Homo sapiens: one gene and its partners. The protein of the gene in region 4 purifies or fractionates together with the protein of the main gene of each other region. This does not show direct contact. Each region holds a gene or a part of one and is shown on either strand. Other genes may lie near its edges. The genes, in order: COL5A1, KPNA5, KPNA6 and PTPN2.

Region 1 (7,104 bases), on a different chromosome or scaffold from region 4:
AAAACAGACAGGGAGCCACAGACACTGAGACAGACCAAAGTGATAAAGGGGTTTTCCTGAGTGGTAATGTTTATCTCTGTCTTTCTCTTCGTATACGCTCTCCAATTTCCTATGGCAAATCCGAACGCCTGCTCCTATACGGAACTAAAACAAAGTTTGTGGACTGACACGGAAAGAAAGATGCAGAGTATTATAGATATTACAATCATGGGTTGTTTTTCTAAAAAAAGAAGAATCCATGACACTCGCTGTCTATGTTTGTCTTCTAGGAACCCAGGGCAAGCCTCGCAAGGCAGCCCCAGCTCTCATTTGCCTTGGGGCTGGGGGCAGTGGTGGCGGACGTCAGAGTGGAAATGAGAGGGCCCTCACTGCCTTCTGCTTCATATACAACCATCTCACTCCTGAGTACCTTTTATGTTTGTAAATAAATCAATGCAAGTGGAAAACAATTCCCAGCAGTTAGAAAAATAAAAGGGCTTTGCTCCCACTGCAGAAATGTCCTCACACCTCCTGCGGAAAGGATCTGGGGCCGCTCAGCCCAGGGAGAGCAGCAACCTGGGATCCTGGACACCCATCAGCCGGGGCCTCTGTGCCTAGCTGGAAGGTTCTCCGTCAATACCGCAGGGGCCTCCGGGATCTCCCGAGCTGCTCAGGACCCCCCAGAGGCAGGGGCCAAGCCTCAAACACAGCGTGTCTATTTTCCTTTGTCACCCCTCAGGTTCCCCACCACCAGCCTGCAGCAGGTGCTTGACACATTTAGGTGACGGATCAAGAGCTTGTTGAGTTTGAGACCCACGGCCACAAATTTGAAGGCCCCGAGTCACAGTTGCTGGGGCAGGGAGGCCCCTCTTACCTTTTCACCTTTGGGACCAGAATCTCCTTTGAGGCCGGGAAGTCCTGGGGGACCCTGTGGGAGGAGGCAGGGGGATCAGAGTCCTCATCCTTGGGGCTTTGGGTGGCGAAGTCATCCCACCCGCTATGCTCACCATGAGGAATGTGACTCACCATGGGGCCGGGGGGACCGTCCGGGCCTGGGGATCCTGGGAGACCTTGTTCTCCCTGAAACACAGAGACGCTCTGCATGAGTTGCTGGTCCCCCGTCCCTCCACTCGGCAACCCCTCTGCCCCTCACAGCCTACTCACCACAGGGCCAGGGATCCCTCGAAGGCCATCCGGTCCGGGCTTCCCAGGGGCCCCCTGGGGGCCGATGGGGCCAGTCTTCCCAGGAGGGCCTTCCAAGCCGGCTTCTCCCTGCAGGACGGCGGAGGGCAGAATGAGGTCCGGAGCTCTAGGCTCCAGGCACCCTGGCCCAGGACCACTGCTCGGAAACCCTGGGCACCTCTGGAGGAGTCCCAGGTGACCCCATATCCGGGGTTGCCCTAATTCTCCACATTTCATTGCCTGTGGAAGCTGCCCTGGTCAAGTCTCCATCCCGATCATCTCCCAGGCCAGCAGGGATCCCGTCTCCGCTGACTGCGCCGACCACAGACCGGGTGTCACAGCGCCACTGCCCGAGCAGGGATGGAACCGCACAACCTCCCGTCTCCTTAACAACAGGCGCCTCCAGGAGGGAGGCAGACAGTGCCAGGCCGGGCCGCCATCACCTCACTGACAGAATAGCCTCCCGTGTGCTCTGGGCCAGGCCCCAAGCCAACTGCATGGGTGACGGCGTCCCATCTTCTGCACGGGCCCCGCAGCAGACACGGTCACCATCGGACACGGTCCACTTCAGAGGTAGGCGGCTCAGGTCTGGCCGACTCAAAGACCAGGCATGAGGTCGCAGGGCTCCGGGGGACATAACTACTCAGCCTTGGGCTCCCTGAATCCCGCACCCACCACCCGCCTCCTCCCTCAGGTGGGCAAGGCAGACGGCCCCAGTCTTGTGGCCACCACTTGGCTGCCTCCTTGAGAGAGAACCAGGTCTCCTCCCCAGGTAGGCCATGAGCCAGGTGCCCCTGGGGCAGCCACTCTCAGCCTCCATGGACATCTCTGCCCACACGCTTGTCCACTCCCCACCCTCTGGGCTCCCCTGGGGGAGGTCTACGCGGTCACAGCCTGGCTCCAAAACACGTTACCTTGGCCCCTTTCTCTCCCTGTCTGCCTTCGGGGCCTGCGGGGCCTGGGGGACCCTGAAAGAAGCAAGAGAACAGCAGGTGGTGAGTGTGGCCTGCAGGGGTGGAGGGACGAGCTCGGGTGCAGGCGCTCAGGGTGTGTGTGTGTGTGGCCTGCAGGGGCAGAGGGACGAGCTCGGGTGCAGGTGCTCAGGGTGTGCCGGGCTGCAGGGCAGGGGTGCAGGGTCATGGAGGCTGCTCCCGGGCCACCCGCAGTGACACGGGTCCTCAGCATGAGTCCTATGGACTCCAGTCCCAGGTAAAGGCCTCTCAGGCCACGTGGGGAGGCGCAGTGCACGCCGCGAGTTGTGTGTGGCCTCCGTCCTGGGTGCACCAGGCAGCTGTTTACTGCCCCACCAGCAAGTGGCTGGACCATTCAATCTGCAAAAGATGCCTTCTCATTTGTTCTGGCTTTTCAGTAAAACCTGAGCCAGGGGAAAAGGACCTTTGCAGCTTTGCGGGTGTCTTTCTCCCACCATGGATATCACTGACCGTGTCAGCAGGCGGCCTGTCCTAAAAGGAGCAGCTGCGTCGACCTGGCAAGCCTGTGATTAGGTGATGATGTGGCCGAGGCTAAGTGGAGAACATGCCACACCCGAGCCCTTCCTCATCAGTGCAGCTTAGAGCACCCAGGGCCCAAGCAAAGGTGACGGGGAGGGGCGGGGGTGTTTCATGCAGGGATTTGACAGCAAGGATGTGCCTGCAGGATTATTTACCCTTTTTCCTGGAGGCCCCGATGGACCTGGTTCACCAGTAGGGCCGGGGGATCCCTGGTATTGGGAGAAAGAACAGAGTGTGAGGAATTGGGGCCCGTTAGACTCAATTGAGGCAAAACACATGGCGATTTCAGTCTATTTACTCCTCGGCCAGCCCTGCGGCCGCCTCTCTCTTCTTTTGGGGCTAGCACAGAGGGTCCTAAGACAGTGTCGCACCCGGGCTGTGACAGCGTAAGGAACCCCAACTCCCATCCTGCGGGTTTTCTGCATTTTGGAAGAGAACTTCCCCACTCACAGTGCTGACTCTTGATACACAATGACGGTTCGGTCCCCACCACAACCTGGGCAGGGACGAGGCACTGGCATCCCCTTTCACAGAAGGGGGGACAAGAATCGTCCCAGGACACAGGCCGGGAAGTGGTGGACTGGGGGTGTCTGTCAGGGAAATCCAGCCCGAGGCTAGATCCCTAACCCCTTCTCTGAGTGGACGCTCCTCTCAACTCAGTGACATGGCCTTTGCCCTCAGGTCCGCAGTCCCCCGCGCTTGGCCAGGCTGGGTGCAAGGTGGGGCAAGGGCATCTGCAAGGCCTCAGGGGCCTCCTCCAGGCCCAGTCCTGCCCAGGGCCCATGGGGGTCGATCCGTCCCAGAAAGACGTTCTGGGCTTGAAGCGGTGTTTAAAACACTCAACGCCAAGCGTCAGATGCAACGTCCAGTGTGATCTCGGTCAAGGTAAGGCAGGAAGGGCCTGGTGAGGAGAGGCACTGGCCCTGCTAGGCAGAGCTGTGGGTAAGATCTGACGTTCCCGGGCGAGCCCATGGTGGGTCGTGGAAGCCCTGGGGCTGCCTGCAAACCTGCTGCTGAGACAGCACGTGCATCTCAGAGGGAGTTCATGAGCTCTGTCACTGTCCAGAATCAATATCATAAGGGAATCAACATCATAAGGGAATCAATATCATAAGGGAATCGATATCATAAAGGAATCAATATCAACTAGGTTGGAGTTTTTCCCAGAAATGAGTCAAGCAAGCTGCAAGGTCCCAAGAATACACTGACACCTCCACCAGGAAGCCAGCCCAGATTGTGGACTCACCGTCTGCCCGGGTTCACCATCATCTCCTTTGTCACCAGGGGGACCATCTTGACCCTATGGAGGCAAAAGCGAGCTCCTTGCTGAACCCCGGATGGCACCCTGAGTTCATGCACCAGTTCCCAATGCATCTCCAGCCCCTTCCCAAAACCCAAATCCATTCTGGTGCCAGCACAGAGCATGGTCAGTGGGGTCAAAGGCGTTTTCTTGCTCTGATCACCGGAACACGAGTGCCTTTTGGGACATTGCCTGCCCCAGTGGGAGTTCATCACAAAGAACCACCAGAAAGAGGGGAAATGGGGCTGGCAGAGGCAGGCCAGCACTGTGGGGGATCCGGTGGCTTTGCCCTCTTGAGCACCTACCGCGGGGCCAGGCTCTCCGGGGGGGCCAGGATCTCCAGGAAAACCCACTGGGCCCTGAAAGGAAGAAAGAAGGAAGCAGCCAAGGCCATCAGCAACCTGACTGAGACCACACACGGCCAATCATGTCACCACCTCAAGATGGCCACCTGCCACCGTCCAGCTCCTAAGACTTTCCAGCAGTTCCGACAACCCAGTGCACTTTATGGCCCAGAGACCCTTCCACGTGCAGCATGTCCCAGAGCCAGCAAGCCTGGCCAGTGGGCATGGCAGGGGTCAGCTGGTCTCTTGCTTTCCAGAGCCAAGCAAGGGGCAGGCGTTCCGCCCACAGGTCTATTCCTGGGAGCTCCAGGCTGCAACTAGAACCTGGACCTTCAGACTTCCGGAATGTGCCTCTCCGAAGCCCCTCCTGATGCAAAATCAGGGCCGGCCAAGGGCGGGGGCAACTTCCCAAAGCCTGGCTGTCACTCGTGCATCTCAGCCGGCCGCCTGGCCCACAGAGAAGAATCACTCAGGGCTTTCTCCTCCAGTCCACGCCCTGTCTCATCTCCACTATTTTGGTTCAGTAGCTGGTATGAAAACCTCTAGTGTCTAGAAAATTTACCCAACACATGGAATGGTCTTGAAGCTGTTCTCAGAGCAGAGTGCACCGCCAGTGAGTCAGAATGATCCCAGTGCAGAGCCCCGCCCCTGCTGCAGGGCCCCTGAGGTGTGTCTGGAATACTCACAGGGCTGCCTTTGGGACCATCATCTCCGGGAGGGCCTTTGGGTCCAGGGGGTCCGGCAGCACCTGAAGGGCCTGACTCGCCCTTCTCTCCCCTTTCTCCTTTGGGTCCCTGGAGGAAAGAGGCCAGTGTCAAGTCCTCAGAGCCAACCACGTCGCCGCCCAGAGCAAGGTGGGCCTCCCCGGTTTTCTCACCCCATTCAGACCAGCCTTTCCAAGTATCTGCTGAGCCCTGCAGGGGGCTGGCTGCCAGGTCGCTCCCCAAGCCCTGGGCAGAATCAGCTCCTGTGTGCACCCTGAGGGGGACCTGAGGAGCCTTCACTTTCTGGGGCCCTCAAAGCCTGAGATTCAGCTCTGGGTGGGAGGGACTGACTCCTGGACCAGACATCAGTCAGTGAAGACCACAAGGGGTGCCCACAGACTCCACGGATCTCATGGGGAGGGAGCAGCTAGAACCAGAAGACCCGAGTCCACCCAGCTGGTCCTGGGCCTGAAAGCCACCTTTGGGCTGGCCTCATAGTGAACATTCATCTGGCCTGAGAAGGCCTGGATATTCCTAGTCTGGCCCTCAAGGTCCGGGGGGACGAGGTGACAGCAGCTGCCCCGCGAAGGGGCCAGGAGCAAACACTACAGAGGGTAGAGTTACTGCAGGCCACTGGGCACAGGTAGCTATTGCTAGGTCTGCGTGTACATGCTGACTCCCACATCACACACCTTGTTCACGGTCATTCCATGAAATGGGCACAAGAGGGGTTACAACTCCCATTTCGTGGATGGAAAAGCTAAGGCAGAGCCAGAGCCTCCAACCCAGCACCCCGTCCACACACCCGCTCGGCCATATCCCACCCCTCCCGCAGCGCCCGCTCACTCACCGGGGGGCCGCCTTCTCCCGGAAGGCCAGGCTCACCTGCTTCGCCAGGCTCGCCCTAGGGAGACAGTGCATGTGGTTATGGCAGCGGTGAGCACCGCGATGAACGCAGTGCTACGGTTTCAAGCATTTGCCAAATCCTGCCTGCTGTCTGCCTGCCCCTGGGCACCCAGGACCCAGGGGTTTCTGGGGAGTGCTGTCCCCACACACTCCCAGAATTGGAGGTGCGTGAGGAATGTGGCAGGCACGTGATGGATACAGGGCAGAGTGTCCAGACTGCAAGCAACACTGTCTGTGAAGGCTTTCCCGGAGCGCTGCTCCAAGGGTTGTGGAGGGCAACTATGAGAAGCTGGTAAGTGGCTAGGATGGCACTCCAGGTGGGGGATGGCCAGGGCCGAGGCAGGAGGACAGGCACGCAGTCCTCAGGGACACAGGCCAGAGGGACGCAGGGAAGAGGGCATGCACAGTGGCAGCAGGTGAACAGAAACATGCGCCCTACAGCGGGGACACCAAGGAAAACACCGCCTCTCTGAGCAGAAGCCGCACACCATCACCCTGTGGTCTCAGCAGGGCATATTCCTCTTTAATTTCTGTATCATAAAAAATGAGCAGCGGTGGAAGGCGTCTTCCAATTTAATGGCCTGATTGATGTCAGAAAGAAAGCTCTGGAAACGGTGCACAGGGGGCTCAAGTGCATGGATGTACACTCTGTCTTCCCTCTTGTCCAGGGGAACTGGGAGAGGTGCTTTTGCAGTCAGGCAAATGCTGTCCCACCCAGCATGCAGGCACACACACATGCACCGATGTGCACACAGGAGCTCACACACACAGGCACACACACACACACGACTGGGTCCATGACGCTCATGGAGTCTGGGCTCCAAAACCAATCAGATCAAATGGAGAGGACCCATTTGAGAAAATAATTCGGCTGAAATGGAAACTGCAAGCTTAGAAACACCAGTTATTTAAGGAATAGATGATCTCCACCAGAGCTGAGTCTTGGAGGAGGCAGGGGCTTTGCTGGTGGGGCATCGTCTGGAAATTCTGCAAAAGGCTGTCACAAATGGACAGTCAGAGTTCCCAGTTCCATTTCACAAGCATCTGCCTACATTTCAAAATGCCCTTCATAGGAATAAACCAGCCATGCCCACAGAAATGAGTACTTCTCATCTCTGTGTACACACAGAGAGGTACACACACGTGTATGCACCCCCACAAGCGTGTGCATGCGCACA
Region 2 (8,018 bases), on a different chromosome or scaffold from region 4:
CTACCTCTATCTTGAAGCAGAAATAAAAACAAAAAAGCTTCAGAAGCATGAAATAATGCAAATGCTAAATTAGAATGTGAAAATATTTATTACCTTAAATTATACATATCACTGTGCTGTAGGTTATACTTTGCAAAAAATTGCAACAGAAAACCTATAAAATTTATTTATAAAACAGAAGAAATATTATACTGATAATCCATTAAAATGTGGCAATTGTGAAGGGAGAAGCTGTTTTTCATGTTGAACACATTAAAAAGATTACTTTATAAAATGTTTAAATATTTCTGTTTTTAACATATAAGTGCTATGTATATTAGTATATTTTGTATTTCAACCAAATATGCTACCATTTTTGAAATAGTGTTTTATTGTTTTTCACTCATTGTTTTAAAGAGCATCATGACAGAGATGTCATCATGAATCTAAAGTAGTGCTGCATATCTAAAATAATAACTAATTATTTCTCTGATTTTTCAGAGCAGTAATTGAAAAGTTTCATTTTCTGTATAATAGTACTAGTTTAAGTTTAAGTACAAGTACAAGTTTAGGTACTCGAATGACAAAATTACCCTGAAGAAATAACCTTATTATGTGTTAAATTGTATTAAATGCATTTAACATTTGGATGCTAAATGATAATGAAAATTGCTAAAGGTTCTTTAATATGGTTCAAATCTATAAGACTTTTTTCTTTTAGTAATACTCAGAGGGTCATTCTGCTGCTTGTTATGAATCATAGATTACATTCATGTCAGATTGATCAATATGTATGTTTTATGATTTAACAGCAAAAACCTCTTCAAACGGAAAATTTGAAAGAAAGGTTTCAATAGAAAAATTATATATATATTTATACATATATATGTGTGTGTGTTACTCTCACAGTTCAACTACTGTTGAACTCAATCTTTTAATTTATAGTTATACGTAGGCTATTTATGTGTCCAATTGTATACCTAGAATACTTACTTAAAACTTAGTTTACAACTCTTTTTAAGATGAGAACTAAGGCAATTTTGATATGATTCATGGTCTATTCTTTAAAAAAAGATTTCATTTATGATAGTATTTGTAATGTTTCTGCTGGAAATCAGAGGCACGTTCCAAGAGGAAAATGTATATAGGAGTACTTTTAAAGAATATGTCACTTTGTAAATTACATATCATGAAACTAAGCTTTTGACAAGATACTTAAAACCTACAGCTGTAAAATACAGGTTTAAATGGTGTTCGTAATGCTGAGTGCATCTGCCAGCCCTTTTTTATTATTAAGTAGAAGATTGTATCTGTGCCCCTTTTTTCGTAGTGGAAGGTATATAGCCGAGTATAAAATGGTTTTCTTTTGCATTATCTGTATTCAAAAAACAGGGTAGTTATATTAAAGCTTACCAAATTGATGGTGAATTTATCAGATTAACCTTTTTGTGGTGCAGATGGTTCTAAGTATCAGGTGACAGGGTATTCTACTCTTTCTAGTCAATTAAAATTGATAATGCAGCATGATTCATAAACTAACCAGCTGTGCCTCCTTTTATTTTGAGGACCCTGTAGTCACTATAATAAATTTCTAAGCCAAATTTTTCAAACAAGATAGTTCTTATAGAAGGAGAAATAATAAATATGTGTGTGTTGATGCATGCACACAGAATGACCTGTGAAAGGAAACTTAAATTTTGCCGGTAAAACAAACATATCTCTACAGACTGTGATTATACTTCATAAGCATTTAAATACAGTTTTATTTATTTCCTTAAATATATTACTTGGGTAATTAATTTTAGATTTGATTGCAAAGAGCACTGTATAGCAGTTGGGACCAGCTCTTGGCTTGGCTTGGCTTGGCTTATTGTTAAGAGTTTATTGGATCAAGACTAACAAATAACTTTGTGATGAAAATTCTTCAAAAATATAGCTACTCTTTTCAAGTATACCATTTAAAATATTTCATCAGGCAGAGCCCTGACCAGGAAAAAAAAAAAAAAAGAAAGAAAGAAAAGAAAAAAATAAATAAAATGCTCCAAAAAGTGTTTTCAGTAGTCTTCACTGGCCCTTGTGGGAGGAAAAATACTTTTTTAACTTGCTTTTCTAAGATTTGTTATATTTAAATCCAAGAGAAACTATGCCGAAAAAAAGTGTTATAAAGAGGAATGCATGTAGCATTAATGCAAATATCAAGAAAATACTTGAAAGAGTCCTTTTCATTTATTTAATTAAATTTGGTGTTTTATTTTGTCTGAATCTGAATTTCTCCTATTTAATCTATGCAATTATGCTTGTTTTATATTTATAAGCACTTGACTCACTGGGTGTGGTCTTTTTACTGTGTTTTATTTCAAAACGTTGTTTTAAGTGATAGTGTCCTTAAATTTTAGTGTCATTTGGTCAACTTACTGGTAACACCAGAACAAGAAAGCAAAAAAGTAATAAATTCTGCTGGCACAGAACTAACATATCATTTGGTAACTGTAAAACCTATTTGCAGTTAAAGGTTGATTTATTGGATAAGGGACTAAAAGAAGCATATATTACCTTTGCCTTTATATTTTTTCTTCTTTTAAGAAGGAGCATTATGGAAAAATAAATATAAAGTCTTAGTGAATTTTTGTTATGGTTCTCAATTCAGCAATCTACTGGCTGCTTGCGAAACTGTGAAATCAAATTGTTCTTAACCTTTATTCAGTTTAGTTTATAGCATTACTGTTTTATGAAATGTGACATTTTAGGAGCCAATATAATAGAGCTCTAAAAGGATAGTATATCTTTAAATTCTGACTGGGGAGTAAGAAGAGAAGATATTCTTACCCTACTAAATAAACCAACTTTTGAGTAGTATGCAATATTATGAAATGTTACAACACTATATTAAAAATAATAAAATATTTTAAAATTGCATTTATATAAATGTGTCCATTTCATTTTTTCTTAAGATTGTTGTTTCCTAACAGAACAAAGACAGATGCTATTATTGGTTAAAAATCCATTTACTTTCTAAAACTAACAAAGGAGAAAAAATAGAATTATAAAAAATAGCTAATCCAAAACTAGACAGAAAAAGAGAAAAAACAAATGAAGATGGAACAAATAGCAAGAAAGATCAAACTCAGTTATATCAGTAGTCACAGTAATTACTAATGATTTAAACATGCCAATTAAAGTGCAGAGGTTATCAGTTTTAATAAAAAAGTAAGGCCGTATTTTGCCTCTAAGAAAATGTTTTCAAGAAGCAAATTGGTGAAAAGGGTGGAAAAAAGATATACCATGCTATCACAAATCAAAAGTAAGTTGGGGTGGCCATATAATGCATATCAAGGTGCATTTCAGAGCAAGGAATATTTATTGCTGGAGATAAAGAGGGTCATTTGATAAAGGGATCAATTCATGATAGTCAAAATGTAGAAACAAATGTTCATCAGCCAATGGATAAATAAAATGTTATATTCATAAAATGGGATATTACTCAGTAATAAAATGAAATATGGATATATGGTACAACATGGATGAACATTGAAAACATTAGGCTAAGTGAAAGAAACCAGATTCCATTTATATGAAGTGTTCGGAATAGACAAATCTATAGAAACAGAAATAAATTAGTATCTAGGACTGGGGAAAGTTGGAAATGGGAGGTGACTGGGTACAAAGTTTCTTCTTTGAGCAATAAAAATAGGATTTTCTAATAAATTCAGAGATGTGCTGCCATCACCATAAGCAAAAGTTCACTTTTTTACTGGCACTAGCCATATTTCAAGTGCTCAGTAGGGAGTGCAGGGCTACAGTATGTTTTTTAAATCACGTGAGAGTAACACAAAGTTTTAAATGCATATTTTACACCCCAAAGCAACCAATTCTTGTTCTTGGAGTTAGCTGAGCTTCCTAGGATCCATGGATTTATAGTTTTCATCAAATTTGAAAACACAGCAATTATTTAAACATTTTTTCATTTCCAATTCCGCTTATATTAGTCTGCCTGAAATACTCACACAGCTTATTAATGCTTTGCTCATTTTTGGTTATTTTTCATTTTGTATAGTTTTCATTGTTTCGTCTTCAAGTTCACTAATCTTGTCTTCTGCTGTGTCTAATCTCTTAATTCCATTAGTGTATTTTTTATGTCAGACATTGTGTATTTTATCTTTAAAAATTCAATTTGGATCTGTTTTATATCTTCCATTTTTTTTATCATACTCAAGCTTTCCTCTGCTGGCTTGAACACAGCAAGTATAATAGCTGTTTGAATGGCCTTGCTACTAATTCTGTCATTTCTTGCTCTGTTTCTGTTTATTGATTTTTTTATTATGAGTTGTATTTTTCATTTGCATGCGTTTACATGTTTGGATATTGAATTTCCCATATTTGTTCTTCTTAACACAAGTTACTAGGGGAAAAAATGTGATCCTTTAAAGGCTTGCTTTTAAACTTTGTAAGGCAGGCACAGAACAACGTTTATTTTACTGCTGAGTCAGTACCATTCCGAGTACTCTATTACCCTATGAATTACAAGGGATTTTCACTTTGGCTAGTGGAACTTAAACTGTTCCTGATCATTGTGGGCTCCAAAAATTGTTTCCCCTTGTGCTTTCAGGTGATTCTTTAGAAGGCCTTGGGTAGTAGTCACATGTGGTCAATAGTACTTGGCTGAAGACTCAAAGGGGAATCCTCTGCAGATAATCTGGAGCAATCTGTGTAGTTTTGTCACATTTGGTACTCTACCTTGTGAACTCTAGTTTTGTCCTCCCTGGCTTCCTAACTCTTTCTCCCCATCTCAGAGACTTTGTGGCTATACCTGAATTTCCCTTCCTTGCCCTGCAATCGTGAAACTCTAGGCAGTAAGAGACAGAGCAGTCATAGGGCTCAACTAGTTTGTTTCCTCTGTTTCATAGATCACGGTTCCTCATTATCTGATGTCTAATGTCTGGAAACTGTTGTTTCATGTTTTTGTCCTGGTCCCTATTACTCTAGTTTGGCTTAAAGCAGAAGTTAGCATACCAATCTATGTTCTTTTTAAAATCTCTGTTTAATGTGGGCTTTGATCATTTTTCATATTGTTTTCTTGGTGCCTTTTTGTCTCAATCACTTTCGCTGAATTCAGTTATAGTGATTATAGTCTTTTTACTTATTTCCTTAGTTTTTGCTCATAATTTTAGAATTTCCAATCTTTTATTCTCTTTGGATTTATTCTTAAGTCTTTCCCTAATTTCCCTAAACATTTAAGGTTGTTAAATGTTTAATTTGGGAAGGCTAAAAATTTACCTTGAAGTACCATTTCAGCTGCATTCCACAAGTTATTCAGCTCTAAGTATTTTAAAGTTTATATTATGATTTATTCGTGACCTATGAAAATTGACAGACCGTTAGCAAGACTAATAAAGAAGAAAAGAGAGAAGAATCAAATAGACGCAATAAAAAATGATAAAGGGGATATCACCACCGATCCCACAGAAATACAAACTACCATCAGAGAATACTATAAACACCTCTACGCAAATATACTAGAAAATCTAGAAGAAATGGATAAATTCCTCGACACATAAACCCTCCCAAGACTAAACCAGGAAGAAGTTGAATCTCTGAATAGACCAATAACAGGATCTGAAATTGTGGCAATAATCAATAGCTTACCAACAAAAAGAGTCCAGGACCAGATGGATTCACAGCTGAATTCTACCAGAGGTACAAGGAGGAACTGGTACCATTCCTTCTGAAACTATTCCAATCAATAGAAAAAGAGGGAATCCTCCCTAACTCATTTTCTGAGGCCAGCATCATCCTGATACCAAAGCTGGGCAGAGACACAACCAAAAAAGAGAATTTTAGACCAATATCCTTGGTGAACATTGATGCAAAAATCCTCAATAAAATACTGGCAAACCGAATCCAGCAGCACATCAAAAAGCTTATCCACCATGATCAAGTGGGCTTCATCCCTGGGATGCAAGGCTGGTTCAATATACGCAAATCAATAAATGTAATCCAGCATATAAACAGAACCAAAGACAAAAAACACATGATTATCTCAACAAATGCAGAAAAGGCCTTCGACAAAATTCAACAACGCTTCATGCTAAAAAACTCTCAATAAATTAGGTATTGATGGGACGTATCTCCAAATAATAAGAGCTATCTATGACAAACCCACAGCCAATATCATACTGAATGGGCAAAAACTGGAAGCATTCCCTTTGAAAACTGGCACAAGACAGGGATGCCCTCTCTCACCACTCCTATTCAACATAGTGTTGGAAGTTCTGGCCAGGGCAATTAGGCAGGAGAAGGAAATAAAGGGTATTCAATTAGGAAAAGAGGAAATCAAATTGTCCCTGTTTGCAGATGACATGATTGTATATCTAGAAAACCCCATTGTCTAAGCCCAAAATCTCCTTAAGCTGATAAGCAACTTCAGCAAAGTCTCAGGATACAAAATCAATGTACAAAAATCACAAGAATTCTTATACACCAATAACAGACAAACAGCCAAATCATGAGTGAACTCCCATTCACAATTGCTTCAAAGAGAATAAAATACTTAGGAATCCAACTTACAAGGGACGTGAAGGACCTCTTCAAGGAGAACTACAAACCACTGCTCAATGAAATAAAAGAGGATACAAAGAAATGGAAGAACATTCCATGCTCATGGGTAGGAAGAATCAATATCGTGAAAATGGCCATACTGCCCAAGGTAATTTATAGATTCAATGCCATCCCCATCAAGCTACCAATGCCTTTCTTCACAGAATTGCAAAAAACTACTTTAAAGTTCATATGGAACCAAAAAAGAGCCCGCATCGCCAAGTCAATCCTAAGCCAAAAGAACACAGCTGGAAGCATCACGCTACCTGACTTCAAACTATACTATAAGGCGACAGTAACCAAAACAGCATGGTACCAGTACCAAAACAGATATAGATCAATGGAACAGAACAGAGCCATCAGAAATAATGCCGCATATCTACAACTATCTGATCTTTGACAAACCTGAGAAAAACAAGCAATGGGGAAAGGATTCCCTATTTAATAAATGGTGCTGGGAAAACTGGCTAGCCATATGTAGAAAGCTGAAACTGTATCCCTTCCTTACACCTTATACAAAAATTAATTCAAGATGGATTAAAGACTTAAACATTAGACCAAAAACCATAAAAACCCTAGAAGAAAACCTAGGCATTACCATTCAGGACATAGGGATGGGCAAGGACTTCATGTCTAAAACACCAAAAGCAATGGCAACAAAAGCCAAAATTGACAAATGGGATGTAATTGAACTAAAGAGCTTCTGCACAGCAAAAGAAACTACCATCAGAGTGAACAGGCAACCTACAAAATGGGAGAAAATTTTCACAACCTACTCATCTGACAAAGGGCTAATATCCAGAATCTACAATGAACTCAAACAAATTTACAAGAAAAAAACAACCCCATCAAAAAGTGGGTGAAGGACATGAACAGACACTTCTCAAAAGAAGACATTTATGCAGCCAAAAAACACATGAAAAAATGCTCACCATCACTGGCCATCAGACAAATGCAAATCAAAACCACAATGAGATACCATCTCACACCAGTCAGAATGGCAATCATTAAAAAGTCAGGAAACAACAGGTGCTGGAGAGGATGTGGAGAAATAGGAACACTTTTACACTGTTGGTGGGACTGTAAACTAGTTCAAGCATTGTGGAAGTCAGTTTGGCGATTCCTCAGTGATCTAGAACTAGAAATACCATTTGACCCAGCCATCCCATTACTGGGTATATACCCAAAGGAATATAAATCATGCTGCTATAAAGACACATGCACACATATGTTTATTGCAGCACTATTCACGATAGCAAAGACTTGGAATCAACCCAAATGTCCAACAATGATAGACTGGATTAAGAAAATGTGGCACATATACACCATGGAATACTATGCAGCCATAAAAAATGATGAGTTCATGTCCTTTGTAGGGACATGGATGAAATTGGAAATCATCCTTCTCAGTAAGCTATCGCAAGAACAAAAAACCAAATGCCGCA
Region 3 (8,018 bases), on a different chromosome or scaffold from region 4:
TGAGCCTTCCTTTTCTGACCTCTAGAAAGAAGGGGTGGGGCTGTGTTATCAAGATATTTGGGGACTAAATAAGATAACAGCATTTGGGCTGGGCAAGGTGGCTCAGGCCTATAATCCCATAGGCCGAGGCGGGTGGATCACCTGAGGTCAGGAGGACGACACCAACCTGACCAATAAGGTGAAACCCTGTCTCTACTAAAAATACAAAAATTAGCTGGGTATGGTGGCGTGCTCCTGTAATCCCAGCTACTTGGGAGGCTGAGAAGGGAGAATTGCTTGAACCCGGGAGGCGGAGGTTGCAGTGAGCCGAGATCATGCCAGCCTGGGCAACAAGCTAGACTCCCTCTCAAAAACAAACAAATAAACAAACAAAAAACAGATAACAGTGTTTGGAGCCTAAAGGGCTCCATGAATATCAGAACAGATTCTTTTCCACTTTCAATAATGTTCCTTTCCCTTAAGCACTCTGGTTTCCAGGTTTCCCTATTGAGTAATAAGACTGATAGGCCTTTCTTAGTAGCTGGAGCTTCATCTTTCAGTGAAAAAAATTTAGGGGGTTTTATGTTATAAACTTTGTTATAAATTTTATATTGGTCTTCAGTTTCAGAAACACTGTTGCCTCAAAGGGAAGGAACTAATGTTTAATAAGCTCAGTGAAATAAGTAGAGATTTACTCAGTTTTATAGATTGGGAAACTGTCTCGGAGAAGATAACACAGCCAGTAAGCCACAAAGCCAGGAGTAAGATTCTTACCCATTTTGCAGCACATAAATCTATAAGACTTAAGAAGTTAAGAAATAAAGTTAGTCCTATTCTGGTACAGTTCAACATGAAAGTTCTTCAGTGGAGCAACAAACCCTGACCAAGGTCTTGAAGGGGGTTTTTAGCCTAGAGTCAGGTAACTTCCTCTTTCCAGCTCCATCTCAGGTACCTCTCCCTCATCGTAGCTTGTCTTTATGAATGTCAGCTTTTTGTTTGTTGTAGACCAAACTAATGCATTCATTTAATTCTAACATCTAATCTAAGGTATCTTGGGTTATCTCCATTTACACTTATAAACTGAGGCTTTGAGAAGATTAGGTGACTAGTCCAAGGCTGGTATTCTGGATCCTTTGGGCACTGGAGACACTAACACAGCCTGCCTTCACATGCCCACAAGTACGGAACCTGCCGTATTTCACTGCCTCTTAAGTGTACTCTCAGTCTGTATCCTACTAGCTCAGTCGTATATCCTACACTATTTCTACTATGCCAAACTTCATTACCCTTAACAGACCTTTGCAGTGATTTCCCTGCCACTAGGTGCCCTGTAGGGGTGATATTTGTAGCTCTGGAGATTGCTTTATTCTGACCCTCTAGCAGAGACTACAACCTCATGAGTCTTGGCAGACACTACTTGTCTTTTCACCATTACTACTACTGTGCTAACTGGGAATCTGGCCACCCTTCCTTACCCCAAGGGGTGGGTCTTGATATAAACTCTAAACCAATCATTGTAACTCTAGCTCCCTAGACAGTGATTGATTTAGGCATGGGCATATGATGCAGTTCTTGCTAATTAGATGGGAAGGGAAGCCTGGGGAACTTGTGGAGAAGCCTTCCTTATTTAAAAGAGACTTGCCAGCTTTTATTTTATTATTTTTTGCCAGTTTGTATTTTAACCCAGGTTGCACCAAAATGTGTGAACCACAAACAAAGACAGAGATGGGAAAGCTATAATAATAATAATACCCAACACTTGTATAGAACTTGCTATGTGCTAGGTACTCTTCTAAGTAGAGGCATACCTCAGAGCTAAGGCAAGTTTGGTTCCAGACCACTGCAATAAAGCAAATATAATAAAGCAAGTCACATGAATTTTTCTGTTTTCCAATGCATATAAAAGTTATCTTTATACTATACTGTAGTCTCTTAAGTGTGCAATAATATGTAGAGTAAAAGTACCTCTTTTATTTATTTATTTATTTATTTGAGACAGGCTGGCCCTGTCTGTCACCCAGGCTGGAGTGCAATGGCGTGATCTCGGCTCACTGCAACCTCCGCTTCCTGGGTTCAAACCATTCTCCTGCCTCAGCCTCCTGAGTAGCTGGGATTACAGGTGCCCACCACCACACCCAGCTAATTTTTGTATTTTTAGTAGAGACGGAGTTTTACCATGTTGGACAGGCTGGTCTTGAACTCCTGACCTCATGATCTGCCTGCCTCAGCCTCCCAAAGTGCTGGGATTATAGGCATGCATGAGCCACCATGCCCAGCCAAAAGTACATATCTTAATTAAGAAATCCTTATTGTGAAAAATTGCCATTTGGTGAGCTGTAATCTTTGCTGGTGGAGGGTCTTACCTTGATGTTGATGGCTGCTGAGACTGATCAGGGTGGTGATTGTCTGGGGTGGCAGTAACAACCTATGAAATTTGCCACATCAATTGATTCTTCCTTTCACCACAGATTTCTCTGTAATGTGATACTGTTTGATAACATTTCTCTCTGCCATAGACCTTTCAAAATTAGAGTCAGTACTCTCAAACCCTGCCACTGCTTTATCAACTAAGTTTATGTAATGTTCTAAATCTGCCGGTCTTGGTGGCTCACGCCTATGATGCCAGCACTTTGAGAGGATGAGGTGGGAGGACTGCTTGAGCTCAAGAGTTTCAGACCAGCCTGGGCAACATAGTGAGACCCCATCTCTAAAAAAACATTTAAAAAATTAGCTGGGTGTGGTGGCGCGTGACTGTAGTCCCAGCTACTCAGGAAACTGAAGTGGGAGAATCACTTGAACCTGGGAGGTTGAGGTTGCAGTGAGATGATTGTGCCATTGCACACCAGCCTGGGCGACAGAGCAAGATCTTGTCTCAAAAAAACCCCAAAAATCCTTTGTTGTCATTTCATGTATGTGTGTATGTATGTATGTATATATGTTTTTTTTATTTATTAAGACAGGGTCTCACTCTGTCACACAGGCTGGAATGCAGTGGTGCTATCAACAGCTCACTACAGCCTTGAATTCCCAGGCTCAAGCAATCCTCCTACTTCAGCCTCCCGAGTAGCTGGGACTACAGGCATGCACCACCATGCCCGGCTAATTTTTTAAATTGTTTTTAAAGAGTGTTGCCTAAGCCTGTCTTGAACTGGGCTCAAGTGATCTTCCTGCCTTAGCCTCCCAAAGTGTTGGGATTACAGGTGTGAGCCACCTTGCCCAGCCTATTGTCTTATCAACAGGATTAACGGCATTTTCACAAGGAGTAGATTCCATCTCAAGAAACCATTTGTTTGCCCACCCGTAAGAATAGCTGCTCATCCATTCAAGTTTGATCGTGAGATTGCAGCAATTCAATCATATTTTCAGTTGTCTAGTTATCACATTTTCACTTCTAGTTATCTTGCTGTTTCCACCCCATCTGCAGTAACTTGCTCCATTGAAGTCTTGAACCTCTTAAAGTCATCCGTGAGGGTTGGTATCAACTTCTTCCAAACTCTTATTTATGATATTTTGACTTCTTATGAATCGTGAATGTTTTTATAAGACCTGAAAGTTGAAATCACTCCTTAATTCATACAGAATGGATGGATTCTGTATAGCTACAGAATGGATGTTGTATTAACAGGTGGGAAAACAACATTAGGCCGGCGCAATGGCTCACACCTGTAACCCCAGCAATTTGGGAGGCCGAGGCGGGCAGACCACTTGAGGTCAGGAGTTCGAGACCAGCCTGGCCAATGTGGTGAAACCTTGTCTCTACTAGAAATACAAAAAATTAGCCTGGTGTGGTGGTGCACACCTATAATCCCAGCTACTGTGGAGGCTGAGGCAAGAGAATTGTTTGAACCTGGGAGGTGGAGGTTGCAGTGAGCTGAGATCACGCCACAGCACTCCAGCCTGGGCGACAAGAACGAAACTCTGTCTCAAAAAAAAAAATATATATATATATATATATATTCAGTAAATCAAGCTGTAAACAGATGTGCTGTCATCCAGGCTTTATTCCATTTATAAAGCATAAACACAGTGGATTCAGCATACGTTTTAAGCTTCTGAGATTTTCAGAATAGTAATTGAGCATTGACTTCAACTTAAAGGCCCCAGCTGCATTAGCCCATAACAAGAGAGTCAGCCTGTCATTTGAAGCTTTGAAGCCAGGCATTGACTTCTCTCTAGCTATGAAAGTCCTAGATGACATCTTCCTCCAATGGAAAGCTGTTTCTTCTACATTGAAAATCTGTTGGCTAGTGTAGCCACTTTCATTAATGATCTTAGCTTGATCTTCTGGATAACTTGCTGTAGCTTCTGCATCAGCACATGCTGCTTCACCTTGCACTTTTTTGAGACAGTGTCTCACTCTGTCACCCAGACTGGAGTGCAGTGGCACGATCTCGCCTCACTGCAGCCTCTGTCTCCCGGGTTCAAGTAATTATGGTGCCTCAGTCTCCTAAGTAGCTGGGATTATAGGTGTGTGCCACCACGCCCAGAACATTTATGTATTTTTATAGAGACAGTGTTTCGCCGTGTTGGCCAGGCTGGTCTCGAACTCCTGACCTCAAGTGATCCGCCCACCTCAGCCTCCCAAAGTGCTGGGATTATAGGCATGAGCCACCACACCCGGCTTCACTTTTTTTTTTGAGACGGAGTTTCTCTCTGTTGCCCAGGCTGGAATGCAGTGGCGCGACCTCAGCTCACTACAAGCTCGGCCTCCCGGGTTCACGCCATTCTCCTGCCTCAGCCTCCCGAGTAGCTGGGACCACAGGCGCCCGCTACCACGCCCGGCTAATTTTTTTTTGTATTTTTAGTAGAGATGGGATTTCACCATGTTAGCCAGGATGGTCTCGATCTCCTGACCTCGTGATCCGCCCATCTCAACCTTCCAAAGTGCTGGGATTACAAGGCGTGAGCCACTGTGCCCAACTTTTTTTTTTAAGATAGGGTTTTTGTCTGTCACCCAGGCTGGGGTGCAGTGGCAAGATAGCACACTGCAACCTCTAATTCCTGGGCTCAAGGGATCCCCCCACGTCAGCCTTCTAAGTAGCTGGGGACTACAGGTGTGTGCCACCACACTCAGCCAATTTTAAATTTTTGTGAGACAGTGTGTCACCATGTTGCCCAGGCTGGTCTTCAAGTCCTGTCCTCAAGTGATCCTTATTCCTCAGCCTCCAAAGCCACTGGGATTACAAGCATGAGTCACTGAGTTTGGCCTCCACATTGATGGCTTCTTTCCTTAAACCCTTTCTTTTTGAGACGGAGTCTCACTGTCGCCCAGGCTGGAGTGCAGTGCCATGATCTCAGCTCACTGCAACCTCTTCCTCCCAGATTCAAGCGATTCTCCTGCCTCAGCCTCCCAGGTAGCCAGGATAACAGGTGCCCGCCACCACATCTGGCTAATTTTTGTATTTTTAGTAGAGATGGGGTTTCACCATGTTGGCCAAGTTGGTCTCGAACTCCTGACCTCAGGTGATCCACCTGCCTCAGCCTCCCAAAGTCTTGGGATTACAGGCATAAGCCACTGCGCTCGGCTCCTTAAACCTTATGAACCAGTCTCGTTAGAGCCTGGCTCTGGATTAGGCTTTGGTTTAAGGCAGTATTGTGGCTGATTTGATCTTCTGTCAAAACCACTAAAAGTTTATCCATATTGGCAATAAGGCTGTTTTTTCTTTTCTTTTCTTTTTTTTTTTTTTGAGACAGAGGCTGGAGTGCAGTGGCCCTATCTTGGCTCACTGCAAGCTCCGCCTCCCGGGTTCATGCCATTCTCCTGCCTCAGCCTCCTGAGTAGCGCCCGGCCGGTTGTTTTTTTTAAACATTTGTGTGTTCACTGGACTAGTACTTTTCATTTCCTTCAAGATCTTTTCCTGGCCAGGTGCAGTGGCTCATGCCTGTAATCCTAGCACTTTGGGAGGCCCAGGCAGGCGGATCACCTGAGGTCAGGAGTTCAAGATCAGCCTGACTAACATGGAGAAACCCTGTCTCTACTAAAAATACAAAATTAGCCGGGTGTGGTGGCACATGCCTGCAATTCTAGCTATTTGGGAGGCTGAGGCAGAAGAATCGCTTGAACCCAGGAGGTGGAGGTTTCGGTGAGCTGAGATCGCACCATTACACTCCAGACTTGGAAACTCCTTCACAACAAAAAAAAAGAACTTTTCCTTTGCATTCACAGCTTTGCTAACTGGCGCAAGAGGCTTAGCTTTCACCATATCTTGGCTTTTTGACATGCCTTCCTCACTAAGCTTAATCATTTCTAGCTTTTGACTTAATGTGGAGACATGCAACTGCCCCTTTCACTTGAACAAATAGAGGCCATTGTAGGGTTATTAATTAGCCTCATTTCAATATTGTTGTATCTCAGGGAATAGGGTGGGAGAGAGACTGTGGAATGGCTTGTTGGTGGAGCAGTCAGATCATACACAGTATTTATCAGTTAAGTTCTCCATCTTATATGACCATGGCTCATGGCACCCCAAAACAGTTGCAATACTAGCATCAAATATCACTGATCACAGATCACCATAACAGATAAAACAAAAAACAAAAGTTTGAAATATTACGAGAATTACCAAAATGTGGCACAAAGTGAACACATGCTGCTGGAAAAATGGCACCAGTAGACTTGCTTAACATAGGATTGCCACAAACCTTCAATTTGTTTTTTTTTGTTTTTTTTTTTTGAGACGGAGTTTCACTCTGTCACCCAGGCTGGAGTGCAGTGGCACGATCTTGGCTCACTGCAACCTCCACCCTCCGGGTTCAAATGATTCTCCTTCGTCAGCCTCCTGAGTAGCTGGGACTACAGGCGCCTGCCACCACGCCCGGCTAACTTTTTGTATTTTTAGTAGAGATGGGGTTTTACCATCTTGGCCAGGCTGGTCTTGAACTCCTGACCTTGTGATCCACCCGCCTCGGCCTCCCAAAGTGCTGGGATTACAGGCGTGAGCCACTGCGCCCGGCCCAATTTGTTTTTTTTTTTTTAAAAAAAACACACATTGGCTGGGTATGCTGGCTGACGCCTATAATCCCAGCACTTTGGGAGGCTAAGGCAGGTGAAACTCTTGAGCTCAGCAGTTTGAGACCAGCCTGGGCAACATAGTGAGACCCTGTCTCAAGACAAAAACAATAACAACAATAAAAAAACACACAGTATCGGTGAATCACAGTAAAATGAGATATGCCTGTACTTTATATATTCATTTAATTCTCAGATTCTCATGTTTTAGTTGAGAAAACCAAAGGATGGAGAGGTTTCAGTAACTTGGGCAAATTCATAGCTAATACATGGAAGAGACGCTTACTCAGTATGATTCTAATCAAAATATGGGCTGTTTGTACATAAGCATTCCTGAAGTAGCTAAAGCAATCTCTTCCCCACCCATCTTTTCCTATAGAAATCTCACCTGTTTTTCTTTTCTTTTTTTTAATTTGATATGGAGTTTCGCTCTTGTTGCCCAGGCTGGAGTGCAGTGGCACAATCTCCGCTCACCGCAACCTCTGCCTCCCAGTTCAAACTATTCTCCTGCCTCAGCCTCCTGAGTAACTGGGATTACAGGCATGCACCACCATGCCCAGCTAATTGTTTGTATTTTTAGTAGAGACGGGGTTTCACCATGTTGGTCAGGCTGGTCTCGAACTCCCAACCTCAGGTGATCCTCCCGCCTCAGCCTCCCAAAGTGCTGAGATTATAGACGTGAGCCACCGTGCCCAGCCATCTCACCTGTTTTTCAAGATATACTTTAAATACTGCCTTCTTCATGAACCTTTCTGAAGTACTTTATGCCTTCCAGTTTGGAAATGAACTCTCCTAAATTCTATAGCACTTTGTTCTTACTTTTTTTTTTTTTAAATGGAGTCTCGCTTTTTCTCCCAGGCTGGGGTGCAGTGGTGTGCGCTTTTCACATCCTTTTTTCTATTACAGTTGTTTTATTCCATGTTATTAGTTTTTTGACCAGTTACTTACTCTACATAGCCTCATTTTCTTATCTTTAAAATAGGTATAGGTTAGGTGCGGTAGCTCACACTTGTATTCCTAGCACTTTGGG
Region 4 (8,018 bases):
TCCCAAAGTGCTGGGATTATAGGTGTGAGCCACTGCGCCCGGCCGAAAATTTATATTTTTAAAGCGAAAGCTAACTTCTAATTTTGAAAATTTTTATTGGGAGCAGGATATTATAATAATAATCTTTAGTTGTTAAACCATTAAACATCAAGGTTTTTTACATTGTTTCTATGCCTCCTCCCTCAAAAAAAAAAAACCTCCTACAATAAAACTGAAAAATTGCACAAAGACATATTAGTGGAAGACCACTGCTTCGTTTACACAAATGAAGAGTATAAAGCAGAGAAGTGCTCCTTGGGGCAAAAGGCAATTGGCAAAAAGCTAAGGAACATTTTCATAATGAGTTAGAAATACAGATCATCAGGAATATCCAGGAAGCGATAGTGAATACCAGGCAGGCTTAAGAGACAGGAAACATTTAGCATGTTGGTAAACCACTTTAGCACATCAGCAAAAGCATATAAACAGCTTTAGGATTGGAAATTATTGCCATGGGGAAAGGCAACAATTTAGAGGAGCAATTCCAATTAAAAATATAAAGATCGTTTCTTTAGATTAATTCTTGAGTTGCTCCCCTATGCCTGTGTAGCAGAATCTAAAAGATAATCATGTGAACGGGAGATTATATTTAAAAAATAAACTTTGAAATTCATAAAAAGGAAAATGTTAAAGAATGTAAAATTATACTGGTAGAAAAAAAATTTTTTTTTTTGAAGATGGAGTTTCACTCTTGTTGCCCAAGCTGGCGTGCAATGGCACGATCTCTGCTCACTGCAACCTCCACCTCCCAGGTTCAAGCAATTCTCCTGCCTCAGCCTCCCAAGTAGCTGAGATTACAGGCACGCGCCACCACGCCTGGCTAATTTTTTGTATTTTTAGTAGAAACGGGGTTTCACCATGTTGGCCAGGCTGGTCTCGAACTCCTGACCTCAAGTGATCTGCCCACCTCGGCCTCCCAAAGTGCTGGGATTACAGGCATGAGCCATTGCACCCGGCAGAAATTTTTTAAAATAGAAAAAAATAGCCCATTCATGATACATGAATTAAAGAAAATATTGGTAACATGTATGGTAACAGATTAGTAGCTGAGAACCCAAAGGCTGCCCCAGGTTGCTTCAAATCCTGGTTCTGCCATGTTCCAGCTGTGTGACCTTGGGCAAACTATCTTACCCTTTGTTTCAGTTTCCTCATCAGGAAAATGGGCTTTAATAGGATTATTGTGTGGATTGAGTTAATAAGTAAAGTGCTTAGAACAGGCCTCCAAAATAGTAAGTGTTGTATGCGTTAGCTATTATTAATACATCACAAATTTCCACTAAAGAAAATCTTCCCTAGTTTGTATATGGGATTGTCAGAAAACAAATGGAAAAATCATAGTATAAACAGCCTATATGGCTTTAAAGAATTATATAAAACACATGATCTTTCTGAAGTAGTTTTTTAAAAGAAAAAAGTTAGAACTAACTTCTCCCTTGATTTTCACTTTTTAGAGTGGTGAAACCAGAACAATATCTCACTTTCATTATACTACCTGGCCAGATTTTGGAGTCCCTGAATCACCAGCTTCATTTCTCAATTTCTTGTTTAAAGTGAGAGAATCTGGCTCCTTGAACCCTGACCATGGGCCTGCGGTGATCCACTGTAGTGCAGGCATTGGGCGCTCTGGCACCTTCTCTCTGGTAGACACTTGTCTTGTTTTGGTAAGTGCTTCTTACGATCTCATTTTAATCTCATTGATTTTTTTTTTTAAATTGCTTCCACTGGCAGTGAATAAACTCTGATGCTGTATCCCAGAACTGAGGTTTTTCAACTTAAACTTCTACTTTTGGAAAAACCTAAAAATCTCATTTCCACCGTTGCAACTGCCTCTTATTCATGACTGGTAGGAATGTATCCATGATGATTTTAGAGATCCCTAAGAAGGTGTTTTTCTTCCTGGTAGCTTTATATTACAGAAATAATAGGTCTCTCCCCCACATTTTTTCAAATATAAATTCATATGTAATATTGAATTCCTTCCTCCTCAGACAGATACTTTATCTCATTTTTTAAATTTAAAAACTAGGGATAATGATAGACATACTTCACAGGGTTCCTGTGAGAATTCAATGAATTAATACATTAAGGAGACTTAGAAGAGTCCCTGATGTTTTCTGAGCATTCCATAAATGTCAGTATTACTGTTACTCCCCTGAGGTTCCTGTCTGTGCCCCCAACGGCTAATTCTTTCTCCACCAGTCATTCCCAGTCCCAGCCTGTATACAGCCTAGATCTTTTCTTCTCTTTTTAGGACCTTTATTTTTTCGTTACTTGGGATACATGAAACTTCTGTTTGCCCTTATACTTCTCCTAACTTCTGTCTTTACTTCTTCCTCTTATTATAGGATCAAACCCAACAATAATACTGTCTGCTTTGATTTCCATGCCATCTACTCCTTCAGTAGTCCCTGCAGCTTAGTTTCTGCTTTCTGAGCGTGTTCTAAGATTATCAATAACCTAAGCAGTTTAGCTTGTCCTGGTATTCAGTCTGGTGGGGATTTTGTTTTTGTCTTTGTTTAGACAGAGTCTTGCCCTGTCACCCAGGCTGGAGTACAATGGTGCAATCACTGCTCACTGCAGCCTCAACCTCCTGGACTCAAGTGATCCTCCCACCTCAGCCTCCCAAGTAGCTGCCTGCACCACCACACCCAACTAGTTTTTGCTTTTTTATTTTTAGTAGAGACAAGGCCTCACTATCTTGGCCAGGCTAGTCTCAAATTCCTGGGCTCAAGTGATCTTCTTGCCTCAGCCTGCCAAAATGCTGGGATTACAGGTTTGAGCCACCACGCTTGACACAAGACTGGTGTTCTTAACCTTGACTTTAAGGCCCTGTATTAGTCTCTTCGATGTTTCTGTAAAACGTAGCTATGCTTCATTGCAGTTATGTCAGCATTCTTATGCTTTCCACCATGACTGCCAGCACAAAGTAGATTCCCAGGTGAATTAATATGATGATGCTTTTCATTGTAAACACACACACAAGGAGCTTGATCAATGGAGTGATACTCTTGGAAGGAGTGATACTCTTGGAAGAACATTTCAGACGTTGCATCTCTAATGAAAGCTAGGAATTGGGAACGGTTGAGTCTTAACTAAACATCTGTATTACTTTACCACTCTGCGTATATATAGTATACTTCAATCAAAATTAGATTGTTACATCAAAGTTTTAAAACTCTGGTGATTATTTTGTTAATGACACCTGTTCCCTGCCAACTATAACTTCAACAATTTTTTTTCTTTTATTTTTGGTGAGCCTGGGTGTGGGGATTCTAACACTAGGTCAGTAGTCCAGAGCAGTGCTGTAGCTCAGCAGTGTTATCGTGGATCTGGGCTTTTGCTGTCTTTTCCACCGTCTTTCTTCATTTTATTTTATTATTCTATTTATTTATTTATTTATTTATTTGAGACGAAGTTTCGCTCTGTTGCCAGGGTGGAGTGCAGTGGTGCAATCTCAGCTCACTGCAACCTCCGCCTCCCGGGTTCAAGAGATTCTCCTGCCTCAGCCTCCCGAGTAGCTGGGACTACAAGTGCGTACCACCATGCCCAGCTAATTTTTGTATTTTTAGTAGAGACGGGGTTTTACCATGTTGTCCAGGAAGGTCTCAATCTCTTGACCTCATAATCTGCCCACCTTGGCCTCCCAAAGTGCTGGGATTACAGGTGTGACCCACCACATTTTTATTTATTTATTTATTTATTTATTTATTTATTTATTTATTTATTTATTTTTGAGATGGAGTCTCGCTCTGTCGCCCAGGCTGGAGTATAGTGGCACTATCTGACCTCACTGCAACCGCCGCCTCCTGGGTTCAGGCGATTCTCCAGCCTCAGCCTCCAATGTAGCTGGGATTACAGACATGCGCCGCCACACCCAGCTAATTTTTGTATTTTTAGTAGAGATGGCATTTCGCGATGTTGGCCAGGCTGGTCTCTAGCTCCTGGCCTCAAGTGATTTGGCCTCCCAAAGTGTTGGGATTACAGGCATGAGCCATCATGCCTGGCCTCTTTTCCACCATTGTTAGATGGGTGCTGTATATCCAGACATCGTGTCTGTAGTGCAGACATGAAGGAGGCGGAAGGGGAATGAGCAGAAAGGTTGACTCCTGCCATGACTTTTAAAAAAAAAAATAGTCCTTATACTAGCCAGAACTGGTTATAAATCCTTCCTTTAACCAATGACTGGCCAGAAGGAATGAGATTACTATGATTGGTTTGGAATCAGTTGTGAATCAGCTAAAGAATCAAAGTCCTCCAACTACTTGAGGGGTTGAGATGTGGGGAGGGATGAGTAGGCTGGGATAGTTGTTGTGTACATAACAGTTATAGCTGGAGGGTTAAATTATCGTTGTTCTTTCAGAGGAGAAAATGCATAGCAAAAATCTTAGCAATGATCTTGCATTGATTCTGTTTCCTGGGTTCCAATAACAAGACTTGTCTCATTTTTTGCCTTTCTTGCAGATGGAAAAAGGAGATGATATTAACATAAAACAAGTGTTACTGAACATGAGAAAATACCGAATGGGTCTTATTCAGACCCCAGATCAACTGAGATTCTCATACATGGCTATAATAGAAGGAGCAAAATGTATAAAGGGAGATTCTAGTATACAGGTAAACTTCATACAGGTTTTAAATCATATCTATTTGTTAAATACACATAGCATCAAATAACTGCACTCCACTTGAGCCCTTGTCTTTGTTTCAAAGAGTGTATTTGAATTTTTGTGGTAAATCCAGCTGGCTGTCTTAAAATTGTAAAATTTTAGCTAGCTTCCTCATATATACTCAGCCTCAGGTTAAATCCTGTGTGTTACTTAAAAGCCCTTGTAGAAACAAGATTTCATTAAAGAAACTGAATTTTTCATTTTGGGGGTGGTTAATCTTTTAATTATTAAAGTAACTGGAAACTTGAGATACTTTTGCCTTCATTAAACACTGATACTTGGTTTATGTGATATTTGACTTTATAACAACAAGCAACTTGAATATTTATGGCAGATATAATGAAATTCCAGCAAAATGTTATATTCTTCTGGTTGGTGGCTTTATTCTCATTAAGCTATTTTTACTGCATATTTGTAGAACCTAAGTTCAAAGACTGATCAGAAACTTGTGTTATGTACTAAGTTAAAATGTAAAATAGAAACAACCACAGACTCCATTTTTTGTCTGGTTTAATCACATAGTATTGGACATAAGCAGATACTGTAAGTTGATGCATAATATAAGAAGATCGACTGTCTTTTCATTATGTTTCTCATGTGTGAACATATTTACTAGCACTTTCATTTCTCTGATTACTAGCCAATATAAGAATGTAAATTAGATCGGACCATTGGTGTCAGAATAAAGGTTTATTTAAAAAGATTTTTTCCAAATCTTTAAATAGCATTAAAATATTCTTAATGCACAGAAACATTAGGGCACTCAGAGCCAAAATACGCAATGTTTGGGAAACTCAGCCCATTAGAACATGTCCTGCTTCAGACGCCAGACTTTGGGAACACTGGATTTGCCAGGGTCACTTTGGCAGTGATCAGTGATTTAGGTGAAGTAAAAGTTATTTCAGATGTTTAAGATTAGGAAAATTTCCCTTTCTAATCACAGTGAGCTTTCACCAACTTAAATCTGGAGTTCAAAAAGAAAAGTAGTTCAATCAGATTTCCCCATGCCTTCACAGCCTGCATGCCGCCTTCCCTGCCTGCTTCCTGGCTGTGATGAGACGGGTAACTGGGAGGGAAATGTATTGTCCTTTGGATTGTGTCTTTCCTACCACTGCTTTTTTTTTTTTTAAGTTTTGTGTCTTTAGTTTTAGAATACATACTTTATCTGAGGGTGGATCTTTTTTTATCACAGAGATGAGTTTTTCTGGACACACTTTTTTGTGGAGTCTTTGACAGTGCAGTTTGTGGCTAGGAAGGATTTTTTTTCTGTTAATTTATCTGGTGTGATATTGTCCTCAGGCTCTCAATTCTAAGGCATTTTCTGCCCCTATTCCAGATAGGATATTGGAAACATCTTTATCCTTCAGGTACTCAGGATCAGAAAAGCATGCTGCCCATTCCAAGGGGTTAATTTCTGCAGAAATGGTCTTGGCATTCTGAGAATCTTTTTTAATTGGTGCATTTAGACCATCGGCATATGAAGTGATTACTGATAAAGTTGGATTAATAAATACATACCACACATGCTACTGGTTTTTTTTTCTTTTTTTGAGACGCAGTTTTGCTCTTGTTGCCCAGACTGGAGTGCAATGGCACAATCTCGGTTCACTGCAGCCTCTGCCTCCCAGGTTCAAGTGGTTCTCCCCACTCAGCCTTCCGAGTAGTTGGGATTACAGGTGCCTGCCACCACTCCTGGCTAATTTTGCATTTTTAGTAGAGATGGGGTTTCACAGTGTTGACCAGGCTGGTCTCGAACTCCTGACCTCAAGTGATCGCCCACCTCGGCGTCCCAAAGTGCTGAGATTACAGGCGTGAGCCACCGCACCCAGCCCAAAGTGATTGTATCTTAAGTCTGTAAATATGTGTAATTATAATCTTAAAGCATGTATTCATTTACAGAAAACTTCCAATGACTTTGACATTCCTATAGACATATAGGCTATTTGCAATTGCCTTTCAGCACAAGGTCAGGCATAAATACTTAAGCTGGTTGCTGGTATTACCACATATTTATTAGCATATTCCCAGTATTGATGATGACAGTTAACCCCCCAGAGTAAATATCTAGTTTGGCAATTCAGAACTAATGTTGTAAGATCTCTAGCTGGTAATTTGATATTACTAATAAAGTATTAAATGTAAATGATAAACTTTTAACAAATTACAGAGGATTTGAAGTTTAATTGCATTGCTTAAAGCTTTCTTCAGTGAGAGAAATGGGTAGAGCTAGGGTTCTAGGCATTGTGTGGGGGGCATGGCTCCTAGTGGCAGTGACTCATGGGTTGGTGCAACGTGAGCACAGAATTAGAAAGAAAGATGAAACAGTACCAGGCCTCAAAATGAGAGCTCCTTTGAGGTTATAGTTTAGTGAAATGTAATTCCTTGGCTTCACCAGTCAGCATTAATGACCTGAGGCAGGTGACTCAGGAGTGCTGGCTCCCTTGTGTGTCACAGGGAGGACAGAGACGAGTGAGTTTGCTGAACCTATATAGGCATGAGTGAGTTTGCTGAACATAGGCACGAGTGAGTCTGCTGATCATAGCCATGAATGAGTCTGTCGAACATAGCCATGAGTGAGTTTGCTGAACATAGCCATGGCAAAATGACATTGTTGGGTTTGTGGGGTTTTTTTAATTCACTAGCATTAAATATCTCTTTTATTTCTCTCTCTGCCGAGTGCTTTCCTTGTTGACGTATTCTGAATTTGTTGCATATTCTGGGAAGTGGTCCAGTGAGACTTGATTTTTGGTGTCATCTTATTTGTTGACATTGTTGAGTGTTGTCCAGCTATAAGGCCAAGTTACATAACTAGGTCTCAGTCAAGAGTGGAAACTTCAAAAATTGACCAGTGTAAATTCTGGAGACAATTTAACATTTTTGTGGGGTACTTTGTTGAACACACATCTTTATAAGGGGTCACAGCATAGTCAACCCAGACTTGCCTAGGTTAAAATTCTGTCTCTACTATTTGTTAGGTGCATATCCTTGGGCGAGTTACCTAATTATTCTCCCCACATCTTCCGTAAAAAGGGTGTAATAATGGTAATATTAGTATTAGTGCTTATCTCCTAAGGTTATTGTGAGGATTAAGAGCTAGCACATTTGAAGTGTTAGAATATGGCATGGAGAGTAGCAAGTACTCCATGTCTTCACTATAAAAGATTTGGATTGAGTAACAAAACAAACAAGGGAACAAAGAAAATAGACAGTCATCTAAGTGAAGACATCCTTAATTACTCCTGTGTTCCATTATATTGTAGTTTCTTGATTGTTGGCACAGTATTCTTTCGGGGACATGGTTTGCGCCCTCTT

Evidence for each region.
Region 1: the proteins of PTPN2 (region 4) and COL5A1 purify together in Homo sapiens (affinity purification with mass spectrometry; 3 studies listed by BioGRID and IntAct, with this or other methods). This does not show direct contact.
Region 2: the proteins of PTPN2 (region 4) and KPNA5 purify together in Homo sapiens (affinity purification with mass spectrometry, with the first as the bait; 2 studies listed by BioGRID). This does not show direct contact.
Region 3: the proteins of PTPN2 (region 4) and KPNA6 purify together in Homo sapiens (affinity purification with mass spectrometry; 3 studies listed by BioGRID and IntAct, with this or other methods). This does not show direct contact.

Annotation. Positions count from the first base shown.
Region 1 is NC_000009.12:134,812,803-134,819,906, reverse strand, and holds part of COL5A1 (collagen alpha-1(V) chain isoform 1 preproprotein), read right to left. Parts: intron 5,925-7,104; coding exon 5,871-5,924; intron 5,111-5,870; coding exon 5,003-5,110; intron 4,332-5,002; coding exon 4,278-4,331; intron 3,973-4,277; coding exon 3,919-3,972; intron 2,882-3,918; coding exon 2,828-2,881; intron 2,130-2,827; coding exon 2,076-2,129; intron 1,252-2,075; coding exon 1,144-1,251; intron 1,060-1,143; coding exon 1,006-1,059; intron 908-1,005; coding exon 854-907; intron 493-853; exon of another isoform or gene 1-492. UniProt on the Homo sapiens protein: Type V collagen is a member of group I collagen (fibrillar forming collagen). It is a minor connective tissue component of nearly ubiquitous distribution. Type V collagen binds to DNA, heparan sulfate, thrombospondin, heparin, and insulin.
Region 2 is NC_000006.12:116,732,746-116,740,763, forward strand, and holds part of KPNA5 (importin subunit alpha-6), read left to right. Parts: 3' UTR 1-8,018. UniProt on the Homo sapiens protein: Functions in nuclear protein import as an adapter protein for nuclear receptor KPNB1. Binds specifically and directly to substrates containing either a simple or bipartite NLS motif.
Region 3 is NC_000001.11:32,110,538-32,118,555, forward strand, and holds part of KPNA6 (importin subunit alpha-7), read left to right. Parts: intron 1-8,018. UniProt on the Homo sapiens protein: Functions in nuclear protein import as an adapter protein for nuclear receptor KPNB1. Binds specifically and directly to substrates containing either a simple or bipartite NLS motif.
Region 4 is NC_000018.10:12,810,838-12,818,855, reverse strand, and holds part of PTPN2 (tyrosine-protein phosphatase non-receptor type 2), read left to right. Parts: intron 1-1,490; coding exon 1,491-1,700; intron 1,701-4,500; coding exon 4,501-4,653; intron 4,654-8,018. UniProt on the Homo sapiens protein: Non-receptor type tyrosine-specific phosphatase that dephosphorylates receptor protein tyrosine kinases including INSR, EGFR, CSF1R, PDGFR.